Linked DNA regions of Homo sapiens. The protein of the gene in region 1 interacts with the protein of each later gene in a pairwise test. Each region holds a gene or a part of one and is shown in the gene's direction. Other genes may lie near its edges. The genes, in order: ERO1A, LHX4 and PELI2.

What was found.
Region 2: the proteins of ERO1A (region 1) and LHX4 interact in binary tests that used the Homo sapiens proteins (3 or more experiments, as listed by UniProt).
Region 3: the proteins of ERO1A (region 1) and PELI2 interact in a two-hybrid assay, tested with the Homo sapiens proteins (one large-scale study listed by BioGRID and IntAct).

The regions. Positions count from the first base shown.
Region 1 is NC_000014.9:52,639,373-52,643,665, reverse strand, and holds the end of ERO1A (ERO1-like protein alpha isoform 2 precursor), read left to right. Parts: intron 1-35; coding exon 36-96; 3' UTR 97-3,751; downstream 3,752-4,293. UniProt on the Homo sapiens protein: Oxidoreductase involved in disulfide bond formation in the endoplasmic reticulum. Efficiently reoxidizes P4HB/PDI, the enzyme catalyzing protein disulfide formation, in order to allow P4HB to sustain additional rounds of disulfide formation.
Region 2 is NC_000001.11:180,264,663-180,268,311, forward strand, and holds part of LHX4 (LIM/homeobox protein Lhx4), read left to right. Parts: intron 1-1,540; exon of another isoform or gene 1,541-1,568; coding exon of another isoform or gene 1,569-1,591; intron 1,592-1,729; coding exon 1,730-1,932; intron 1,933-3,649. UniProt on the Homo sapiens protein: May play a critical role in the development of respiratory control mechanisms and in the normal growth and maturation of the lung. Binds preferentially to methylated DNA.
Region 3 is NC_000014.9:56,292,801-56,296,449, forward strand, and holds part of PELI2 (E3 ubiquitin-protein ligase pellino homolog 2), read left to right. Parts: exon of another isoform or gene 1-555; intron 556-3,649. UniProt on the Homo sapiens protein: E3 ubiquitin ligase catalyzing the covalent attachment of ubiquitin moieties onto substrate proteins. Involved in the TLR and IL-1 signaling pathways via interaction with the complex containing IRAK kinases and TRAF6.

The DNA.
Region 1 (4,293 bases):
AGATGGTTTCTGAGTGAAATATTTTTTGGTTACAGAATTTCTACAAGTGTGAAAGAATTAGAAAACTTCAGGAACTTGTTACAGAATATTCATTAAAGAAAACAAGCTGATATGTGCCTGTTTCTGGACAATGGAGGCGAAAGAGTGGAATTTCATTCAAAGGCATAATAGCAATGACAGTCTTAAGCCAAACATTTTATATAAAGTTGCTTTTGTAAAGGAGAATTATATTGTTTTAAGTAAACACATTTTTAAAAATTGTGTTAAGTCTATGTATAATACTACTGTGAGTAAAAGTAATACTTTAATAATGTGGTACAAATTTTAAAGTTTAATATTGAATAAAAGGAGGATTATCAAATTCATATATGATAAAAGTGAATGTTCTAAGTCTCTCAAACTAGCGTTTTATGTAATAATATGTAATATAAATAAAACTATGGTAAATGTGACAAGCATTTAATAGGAAAATGCTAAGGAGGCCTCATAAATGACCCATAATTACCAACGTAGAATTTTTCAGTACATTTAGGGTTGCTGGATTTAGCAAATAAAAATAAAGATTGCCCAGTTAGATTTGAATTTCAGATAAACAATTAGTTTTTTAATATTTTACATGGAATATTTGGAAAATACTTATACTAAAAAATTATTTGTTTGAAATTCAAATTTAACTGGGAGTCTTGTATTTTATCTGGCAATCCTAAAATACATTGGTATGAAACAAATCACTTTTAGAAGTATATTGCTATTTTGATTGGGTTGTTTTTGTGTGTAGAAACGTACAATAACAACTCAAAGGCACAGGAGATTTCTAAACATTGTGAAAAGTTGAATAGATTATATATTTATTCTCATAATACTTTCACTAATACTAAATAAAATTTGGGGAACACTTTTTATTTTTATATAATTTCCAATTTACAGAAAAGTTTCAAAAATAGTACAAAGAGCTCTCTTACCCAGATTCACTAATTGTTCATACGTGCTTTATCTTTCATGCTTTCTCTGTACACACACACACACACACAAATTTTTCCTCAATCATTTGAAAGTCAGTTATAGGCATCATGCCCCTTAAACCCTAAATACTTCAGTGTGTAATACTGAATAATTACTAAAAATGATTTTCTCAGAAAAAAAAACTCCCACAATTCTGGAACTATAATACTGTAAGCCTTAGAATAAATAATACTTTCAAGTTCCAATCTAAAGTTCTTTTTGAGTTTTGTTGCCCGTTTTATGCTTGATGTGTATAGTAATAGGGTAGGCTATTTATTTTATTAAAATTTTTTTTAGAGACAAGGTTTTGCTGTGTTGCCCAAGCTGGAACTTGAACGACTGGGCTGAAGTGATCTTCCCACCTCAGCCTCCCAAGTAGCTGGGAATACAGGTGTCTGCCACCATACCCAGTTTCATTTTTGTTTTTTATACCCGAAGTTCATTTCCTTTGTCTCCCTAAAACTGAACTGTAATTTTGGGAGGTTTTCATTAGTGGAAGCTCTTCATTTATAAAGCTATTTGAAGGGGTTTAGGAATTTATATCACATGGTAATTGTAGAGAAAAAGAAGCTATATACCTCAAAATCGTGCCCTCTTTACATATGTCTTATCAGGTATAACATGTTGAAATGTCACATTAGTAGTAAAGTGGGGTTTATTTATATAGTGGTTAAGAAATGTCAGTTTACACTGCTGTATACTTCTTCTTCTGTGTCCCTAAGGCCTGGTACAGTGCCAAGCACATACTTGGTATCCAATAAATATTTGTTGGATGAATGTATGCATATGTATTCAGTATATTTTAAATGAATAATCACAGAAGTAAGTTTAATAATTTGTCCTATTTTTCTCTGTCACTTCCTTTTTCTCTAAGGCAGGAAAGGAAAGACATTAAACCATTAATTAAGTCAATCCTCTTGGAGACTCAAAAGACTATGAAGTGATCACTCTATATAAAATATAAATACAGTGTGGGTTCAAATGGCCATTTTTTGTGTGTCCCTCTCTCTCATCTTATGCTTCCCTTCCTTTTTTTATTTTTATTTTTTGGAGACGGAGTCTTGCTGTGTCGCCCAGGTTGGAGTGCAGTGGCGTGATCTTAGCTCACTGCAAGCTCTGCCTTCCAGGTTCACGCCATTCTTCTGCCTCAGCCCCCTGAGTAGCTGGGACTACAGGCGCCCGCCACCACGCCCGGCTAATTTTTTTTTTTTTTTTTTTGTATTTTTAGTAGAGGCAGTGTTTCACCGTGTTAGCCAGGATGGTCTTGATCTCCTGACCTCGTGATCCACCCACCTCGACCTCCCAAAGTGCTGGGATTACAGGCGTGAGCCACCACGCCCGGCCTCTTTTTTTTTTAGCTGCCAATCTTTTTGAAGGAATATTCTTACCTCTACTTTGTCACCTTCTACTGGCTCCTTAACTAAAATCTGCCATTTGGCTCTCTGGTTAACAGTCCCTTCCTGTAAAGTCTAAAATCTTAATTCTAAATCCACAGTTTAATTCACAAGCTAGTACTTGACTTTTTTTCTGTATTTGACATTTTTGACAACCCCTACTTTAAAGATTTATTCCCTTGACTTCTTACATTTTGCTCACTCCTGAACCACCCCCCACCTTTTGGCCTCTTCATTTATTCCTTAAATGTTATTCCTCAGACCTCCATTTTTTTTTTCTCTCTTAATCACAACACCACTTCTCACGCTTGGGTAATTTTAATTCAGCAGTTCCTAAATCCTTATCTTTAGCCAGACTCCTCAATCCATCTGCCTGTTGCACTTTTCTTGGTTGTCCCAGAGACACCTGTGTGTGTCTTAAAACATTCATTCTCTGCAAAACCTACTCTAATGCCTGTGTCCCTTACTTTGGTTAATTTTAGAACCATTATATTCTAAGTTTTCTAGGCTCATTCCTCTCCTCCACCTTCCCCTATCATTTAGTGTCTAAGTTTTACTGATTTTATCTCCACCTCTCTGATACATCACTCTTTCATCTTCATTGCTATTATTAATAAATACCTACAGTACTAACCTGCCTCCTATACCTAGCTGGTCTCCTCTCTGTTGCTCAATGTTACCACAGCAGGCTTTCTAGAAGCACTCTGACAGTGTTACTCCCTAATATCCTTCAGTGACTTCAGGAACTTTCAGGAGAAAGCCAAACTCCTCTGTTTGGTGTACAAGGTCTTCTGATGTGTTTCCTCCACCGAATGTTCTGGTGAAACAGACTTACACTTCTTCAGAAGCCACATTTGGCCAGGCCTCCCGCCTTGGTAAATGCTGTACTCTTTGCATCAAGTATGCTAGTCATCCTTCCCCACTTGGAAAATTCCTATGCATCTTGCAGGCCTGACATAAGCATTTCCTCTGTGAAACCTCCTTTGCTCCACTCAAGGAGAGTCATCTAACTTCCACTTTCGTGTCACCACTGTAATTACAACCTACCTCTATTGTATGTCACTTAAATCGTACTGTATTGTTTTATTTTTCAAAAGTCTTTACTAGAATGTGAGCTCCTTAAGGGCAGGAAAAGGAACCTTTTTATTTTTTGCATCTCCATAGCATAGTTTTTGGCATATGAATGTTTAATAAATGTTTGTTGAATAAATTGATTTTAAAGTGACATCTTTATTATATTAGAGGTCCTACCTATATTCCAAATACTTTCACTCCCTTCACTTTACAGCAAGGGTCAGTAGAGTCCCAAGGATTTGTAGACTTTAGGGGGTCAATAAAGCTGAAATTGTATTCAAGATTTGGTGTGGTTTTTGGTGGGTCATGAAAGGGGTCTATTCGGGGAAAAAAAGGAACTTCTTTCATGGGAAAAGGCAGCATCATTGAGGAATTTCTTGAATAATCAAATAATACCTTCCTAGGATTATAAGGTAGATAAATGGATTCCTGTTTAAGATTCTGAAGGGAAGGGGAGAAGTGTTATAAATTATTTCATACAACAATTTTTCTTAGCTTAATGTTTGAATAAATAAAAATGTTGGTACCAGTACCATGCTGTTTTGGTTACTGTAGCCTTGTAGTATAGTTTGAAGTCAGGTAGCGTGATGCCTCCAGCTTTGTTCTTTTGGCTTAGGATTGACTTGGCGATGCGGGCTCTTTTTTGGTTCCATATGAACTTTAAAGTAGTTTTTTCCAATTCTGTGAAGAAAGACATTGGTAGCTTGATGGGGATGGCATTGAATCTATAAATTACCTTGGGCAGTATGGCCATTTTCATGATATTGATTCTTCCTACCCATGAGCATGGAATGTTCTTCCATTTGTTTGGATCCTCTTTTAT
Region 2 (3,649 bases), on another chromosome or scaffold:
GAATCTGATGAAAACCCAGGTCCCCTCCTGAGGCACAATTTTGAACAACTTAGCAGGTGGTTTACAGGCCTATGCTGACCCTCACGCAGAGAACTCCTGCTCTAAATGGGCCCCATCTCTCTGAAAACCAAGAGGCATTCCAGGAATTCAGAAGCCTGGGGTCCTCCCAAGCCACCACCTCTCAGCCCCTCACACCCCAACACCCTTCTTATACCCATCTCAGAAGAGTGTTCCCTGAAGTACACTCTGGGTCTTTCAGGATTACCCATGCAGACTTAGAGAACCCCCACTTTTCTCTGGGATGCTGTGTCCCTGGTGGGGGGCGTCTGAGGCTGCTGCTGGCCATGCCTATTCCGGGCCCCCATAACCCCCTCAGCAGGTATCATTACTGCATAACAGACCTATCATTCTGCATTAATCTGGTATTCATCATGATAGCCATGACCATAATTAATTTATTTGGTATTAATGTGGATGAAATATGTACTGTCCTTTCAGGGGAAATCAGGCTGCCTATAAGCATTAGTTAAAAGGACCATTAAAATCAAACCTTCCCCAGATCCATTAGGCGAAGTCTTTCATCCTGAAGAAGATAAAGTTCTGCTGTGTGAAATGTCATGAATAATTAGGTTGATTGCTGTTTTAAACTCTGCCCTTGCTTTCCCAATGCCTCCCGCCTCCCTCCTGAAGCGGGGAAGGCTCACCTGCAGCCACGCACCCTCCTTCACTGTCCCTGTCGGCCCCCAAATTTCCCTCGTCTCCTATGACCATCGGTGTGCCTCTGTTGATCTCTATGACCAGAATGGGGAAAGGGAGTGGAAACAACCCCACTGGACGATACTTTTAAGTGTCAATTTCTCCTTCCTTCCCGGCCTTGGCAGGGGGTGGCTTGCTTGGTAGAAGCTGCCTTGGTGGCAGCAGGTAGCTTCCTTTTGCCTCGGTGTTGTTCTGGAAAGGTGCTGACCAAGGAGAGGTCTGAAGCAGCATTTTCCAAACTGTAATCTGCAGACTCCTTGTCCCGAATGCTGTAGGGGCTGAAAAGTGCAGCTTCCTGGGCCCTTCCCAAACCACCATGCCCCAGGCTGTGTGCGTGCATAGGAAGGGGATGGAGGTAGGCTTGGAGGGCTTTGTGTGTGCAGAATGGAGGTGAGGGGAGAAATGGAGGCAAAGGAGAGAGAACAGCTGTCAGGACAGCCTTGCTCTGCTGACAAAGTGCATTTTCTCTGCAGCGTGCTGTCCCCTGGCCAGGCAGGGCCTCCTCCCTGGGAGTGTGTGAAAAGGTGTTGCTGGGTGCTTTCTACACACAGCCTGTGGCACACACAGTTCCCTGTGAGGATGTCCTCTGGGATCAACCATAAGGGTGAGGAAGCTGGGAGGTGGAGGGGGAGACAGCCTGCTTTGAGGGACTTAGAAAGTCCACCTGCTCCCCCTGTGAATTGATGGGTGTTAATCGGGCAGCTGGAATCCGGGGGCATCAGCTTTGGAAAAGGTACCTGAGGGAGACTCTAGTTCTCATCAGTCCCTTCTTTGGTGGTTGAAGAGTCCCAGGCACAAAGCAATGAAGCTAGATGGAGGCAGAGAGGACCAGACGGTAAGCTCTGGGTGACTGGGGGGTGAGGCTCATGGAGTCCCGGAGTGGTGGGGTAGGAGGGAGGCTGCTCCAGGAAGTTGGGGGAAGCCAGATCCCTTGCTCCCTGTGTGCCCTAATCCTTTCCTGCTGCCCTGACAGGCGCTTCGGCACAAAATGCACGGCCTGCCAGCAGGGTATCCCCCCAACCCAGGTGGTCCGCAAGGCCCAGGACTTTGTCTACCACCTGCACTGCTTTGCTTGCATCATCTGCAACCGGCAGCTGGCCACGGGGGACGAATTCTACCTCATGGAGGACGGGCGGCTGGTGTGCAAGGAAGACTACGAGACAGCCAAGCAGAACGGTAAGCAGCATGGCCCCGCATGGTCCCCTCTCCAGGCCTTTGTTTGGGCCACGCCCTCTGCCTGAGGTGCCCTTCTCATGGCGTCCCACCTGCCCATCCCTCAGAGCCCTACTCATGCACCGCCACCTCTGAGAAGCGTCCCAGATCTCCACACTGAGAGTAAATGCTGAACACCTCCCCGGCCGTTAGCACTCGCCGGCTTCATGGAAGTGTTCATCCAGCCATGGTTCCTGAGAGCCTGCCTGTCTCCATGGTAGGCTCAGAAGCAGCCAAGAACCTGGTTGTTACCATGGTGGTGGCCTCCTTCCCTGGGTGGAGGCTGGGGTGCTGAGGGGTGGCTGGGAGCTTGGTCTGTATTGGACACGTGGGGCTGCCGCTTAGTTTTGCACATCAGGGTGCACATGGACCTCTCAGCAGCCCCTGCCTCAAAGGCCGTCGGTGAGAGCCCAGCACTGGCCTCTGCACACTTCATACATCTGTCTGTTAATTGTGTTCTGTTCGCCTCGCAGACTGTGGGCTCCTCTAGGGCAGGGCCTCCTGGAGTTTCTGCAAGTGCCCAGTGAGTGCTAAAAGAAGAGGCAGGACACATGCCAGATTCAGGGAGGCTCCGTCTCAGCAATATAGCTCCCTCCACCCACTTCAATATAGCTGCCCCCACCCCCTTCACCACAACCACTGCAGGGCCACTGCCCACGGTGGCAGCAGGAGCTCTGCATGGTGGAGGCCGAAGTCAGGTCCCGCATTTAGCAGCCACGCCTGGAAAGGCCTAGCTTGGCCTGGCGGCAGCGGCTCTCGCCCTACATGCCATGCGCTTGGGCAGCCCGGGGACTTTCCAGCGTAGAGCCCAGAACAACACATTCCCCATGCTCCCCTCGCAAAGCCAAGGTGGACACTTTTATTCCTGCAGCCCTACCTCTGGCTTCTCACTCCCAGATGCACCCACATGGTCGTGGGGTCAGGCCCTGGCTCTGAATTTGGGATTTGGCCAAACCCAACATGATAACCTCAGAGGTGTGAACGCACAAAACATCAAGTTCCTTGGCCTTTGACTAGAATTTTGATCAACTCAGGGTGTTACTGTGCAAAAACGGCTCTTGTTGACAGCTCTGGGCTTGATGAGAAAAAAAATTAACAACAATTTTATGTATCTCCTTCTAGATCTTTTCTGGGCCCACACACATATTATACAGATCTCATCAATAATGGAGAAACTGGTTTTTTGTTCATTGAACACAGTATAAAATAAGGGGATTGTGGTGGTGAGGAAGCAGAGGGGATTCATAAGGGCCCTTTAGGTGAGCCAGCTGGAGCTGGGTTTGGCTTTGGTCCATGGCAGGAGTGGGCAGGGCTTCCTGTCTCTTTGAGGACCTTCCCTCCCACCACCCCCACAGCTCTGGCCTTTCAGGGTGGACAGAGGCCTTTGACCTCCTTCCTCCAGAGACCTGGGGCCTCTGCAAACCCATCCCAAGGCTCTTTGCCTGCAATGTACTAATCTGCTCTGGTTTCTTAAAACTCACTCCATGCTATTGCCTTGAAGTCAATTGTGATGTCATGGGAGATTAGGGCAACTTGTCAGGGATGAACCATCACAGCAGATGGACTCAGAGATACCAAGACACCTTTGGAAGTCTAGTGCCGTTCATCAGAGATACTAAGATGGCACGACCTCCCCGGCCTGCAGCTGGTTCTCATCAGAGGCCTCATTTGGACTCTGAGC
Region 3 (3,649 bases), 3.7 Mb from region 1:
CCTGAATAAATAGGTGAATGGAGTTTGAATTGTGCCCTCCTTTTTTAGCTAGTTAATGATAACATATGGTAACATTTATAATATTACTCCAGGAGGGCCTTGAGTATTTAATTAAATTATATATGAAGTATTTTATTAAACTAAACTGGCTTTGTATAAAATTAAGTAAATTCAGTTAAGTTGATTGCATACCTAATTTTAGGTGAAATTATAAAAATAACCATAGCGTAGCTATGGTCAGGCTCTAGCAGGTGCATTACATTAATTGTCTTTCCAGTGTTGCTTAAAATAACCCGTGAAGTCAGTGTTGTTATTGTGTCCGTCTACAGATGAGGAAACCTGGGCTTTAAAAGGTTAAGTCACTTGCTAATAAGAAGTGGTGGATGGGGGGTTGAATTCACTACCCTGTGCTTAGATAGTTGCTATGTAGGGGCCATTAGTTGCCATGGTAGAGGCCAAATGTCTCTTGCTTCCACAATACTGTCAATTCCTGTGCCTGCTCATAGCTTTTCTTTTGTGGTAGAATTTAAAAAATAAAATCTGAATTCATGCCTACTAATGATTGCTAAATCAGGCCACCAGGTTCAAGTCCTGGTTTCACCACTTAGTTCTGTGGTATTGAATTGACGACGTAACCTCTCTGTGCCTGGCTTCCACATCTCCCAAACTGGAATAATATTAATACATGTCTAATAGGACTGTTGTGAGAACTAAATTCAGTAGCTGGAAAGGATTGGAACAGTGCTGGACACAGTAATGCCCCATGACTGGCTGGTTGTTATTACTAAGCAGGGGTTGCAAACTGGGGATGTGGCAGAAAACACCAAGTCCACGCTCTGCCCTCTAATTGCATGGTCTGGAGGAGGTCACAGACTAGGCAGCAGATCAGCAGATACTGTGTGATGAGCACAGTCATGAGAAGGTACCGAAGGTACTTTCCCTCCACAGGACACCTACCCCAGATGTGGGAGTCAAGGGTATGTGGAAAATAAAAAACCATACACCCCAGATTTATAATAAGACTTTGTTGTTTACCAAGAACTGCCCTGCAGGAGGAAAGGGGGGTTGTTCCACAGCCAGAGGCTAGGCCACCACCATACCTCAGCTTCTTACCACATCAGGGTGATCCTTTAGACACAGTTTTATCCTGCAATGAGGCCTCCTCTGAGAATTGCCTGTGGTCAGCAAGGTCAGGAGCCTCACGTCACCAGTTAGAGGAGAGGAGACCATGGGATGCTCGGTATGGTGGTGGGGCGGGGAAGGAGCATCAGCAAACTTCAGGCTGTCTGAAAGGAGTCACAGTGTATGTCCTGTACAGTATTAAGATTTATCATTTGTTGGGACCTTAACTTTTTCTAAAAACTAATACTTGGGAAGGGCTGATTTCTTCATGACAAGGAAAATGTCCAGGGCAAAGTGACATCCAGGTGAGACCTGGATGACAAGTAGGAGTTTGCCAACCAGGGCTCAGCTGGAGCAGGGTGTACTGGAGTGGAGTATTCTAGGCAGAGGTTGCTCTTGCACCTGCCTGTGGGCAGTCCGAGGTAGTGCGCTCATGGACTCCAGCTCCTTGCAGCTCATCGCAGGACAGTCCTGGTTTCCAGTTAGGAAGGGAAGAGCTACAGCAGGAGAAGTCGAGTGACTGCATTGGGAGTGACCTTTTAAGTGTGTTAAGAAGCTTGGGCTGTACCCCAAGGGCAGCAGAAAGCCGCCAAAGTCCTTTGAACCAAAGATTGACAAAATTTCTGGTGCTTCCCATACCTCTCTCTTTCCCTTACATGGTTCTTTTCCTCCACCCCAGCTCCTGGCTCTGTCCTCAGTCCTCTCTGCCCTCCCTGGGACCCTGCCTGGGCAGTGGCATCCATTCCCACAGCTTCACCTAGGTGCGGATAACATCCCAGATATGTTTCTTCGAGCCTGATCTGTCTCCAACGCTGCATCACACGTGCCTTGTATGCATTACCACCACCGATACTCTGCACACCCTCACATTCAGCACACCCAAAACTGAACTGGCCTGGCTCTTGCTGTTGAACTTATTTAGTTCTCACAACAATCCTATAAGACATGTATTGGCATTATTCCAGCTTAATGGATGTGGAAGCCAGGCCCAGAGAGGTTAAGTCGTTGACTCAAGACCACAGAGCTACTAAGTGGTGAAATCAGGATTTACTCCCTCATCTGCCATTTCTCCTGTGTTTCTGTCTGTGGAAAGCACTGTTCTACCCAGACAACCAGGCACGTAAGAGGCTCTTGCTCAGATCAAGAGCTGAGTGCCATCGAGTCTAATTTCTTTCTCTCTAGTCCCTGTGCCTCTGTCTCTTGCCACTGAGACTGTCTTTGTTGAGGTGTACTCACCCTCTCTACCCAGAGAGAGCACCAGTTGCCTCCTTCACAGCTCATCTTTACCCCTCCAACCCACCCTCCAAAGTTCTAGAAGTGACCTTTTTGAAAGGTCAATCAGTTCTTTTATAGTTACCTAAACCCCCTACCAACTCCCTCTGGGCATGGATGCCAGCCTCCCTCTCCCGCCTGGGTCTCTCGTCCCCCCCCACCCAGTGCCCTGAACTGCGTCCATCCTTGTTCAGCCTGGCTGCACAGCCTCATCAAACTCCCTGTTGCTCCCTTGGTGCATATGCCATTTGGCCTCTCCTCCTTCTCCCTGCTGTGCCTTCCTGCTATCCTCCCTACTGAGGCCTGACATCTTTCTCAAATCTCTGTTAAAGAAAAACCTTTTAGAAACCATTTCTGACCGTCTGTCATCATCAGAGTAATAGTAGCAGGTATTTACAGAGTGTTGACTGCGTACCAGACAGTGTTCTCTAAGAACTCTTTGCATTTACTTATCTAACACAACCACCTTTTCTAAAGTTTAAACAAGGGGAAACTGAGGCACGAGGAGTTTAAGTAATCTGCACAGCGTCATACAGCTAATAAGTGGGAGAGCCAGGGTTCAAACCCAGAGTCCACACTCCTGGCTGCTATAAATTTGTGGCCTTGAACAGTGCTTTACTGGCCTTCATGCACTCTGAGCTCTGGGCATGTCTGCCTTCCACTACTGAAGAGCAAGTCTCAGCAGGATGGGGAAGAGGTTTTATTGGCCTTTGGTACCTCCAAGGCTTAGCATGCATCTGGCATGTGGAGGCAGCGGTCACGTTCTTGCTGACCACGCCTAGCTGCTGCTTGTCAGCTGTTAATCAGTCTTATAAGCACTTAGTGCATAGCACAGGCCTCCTTCTAAAAATGAAGGCTCATGTTGAACTGTTTAGCTTCAAACCTTAAAAATGAATGATGAAAGATAGATTCAAGGTGGAGGAAGCTAAGGGTCACCAGGAGTGCTTTGGACCCTCCAGTAATGACTGCAGGCCCCCCGCAAGATCTTCTGGATTGGCTGTCATCAAGATGAGGATGAGTCTCCACTGGATGGACTGGTAGGACATCTCTCATCCTATGGGATCAGTGAGTCATTGTGTTACTGACTTAAGGAGTTAAAAAGAAAATCTTAGGAGATTTGTGAAGTTCATTAAAATAACCACTACAGTAATTGAACATGTAAAGCTAGGTATACATACTGTGCTCAGGGCTTTGTACATACGGCATATATGTATCATATCCAGTGATCAGATGAGGAAGATGAGGCTCGGGGAGG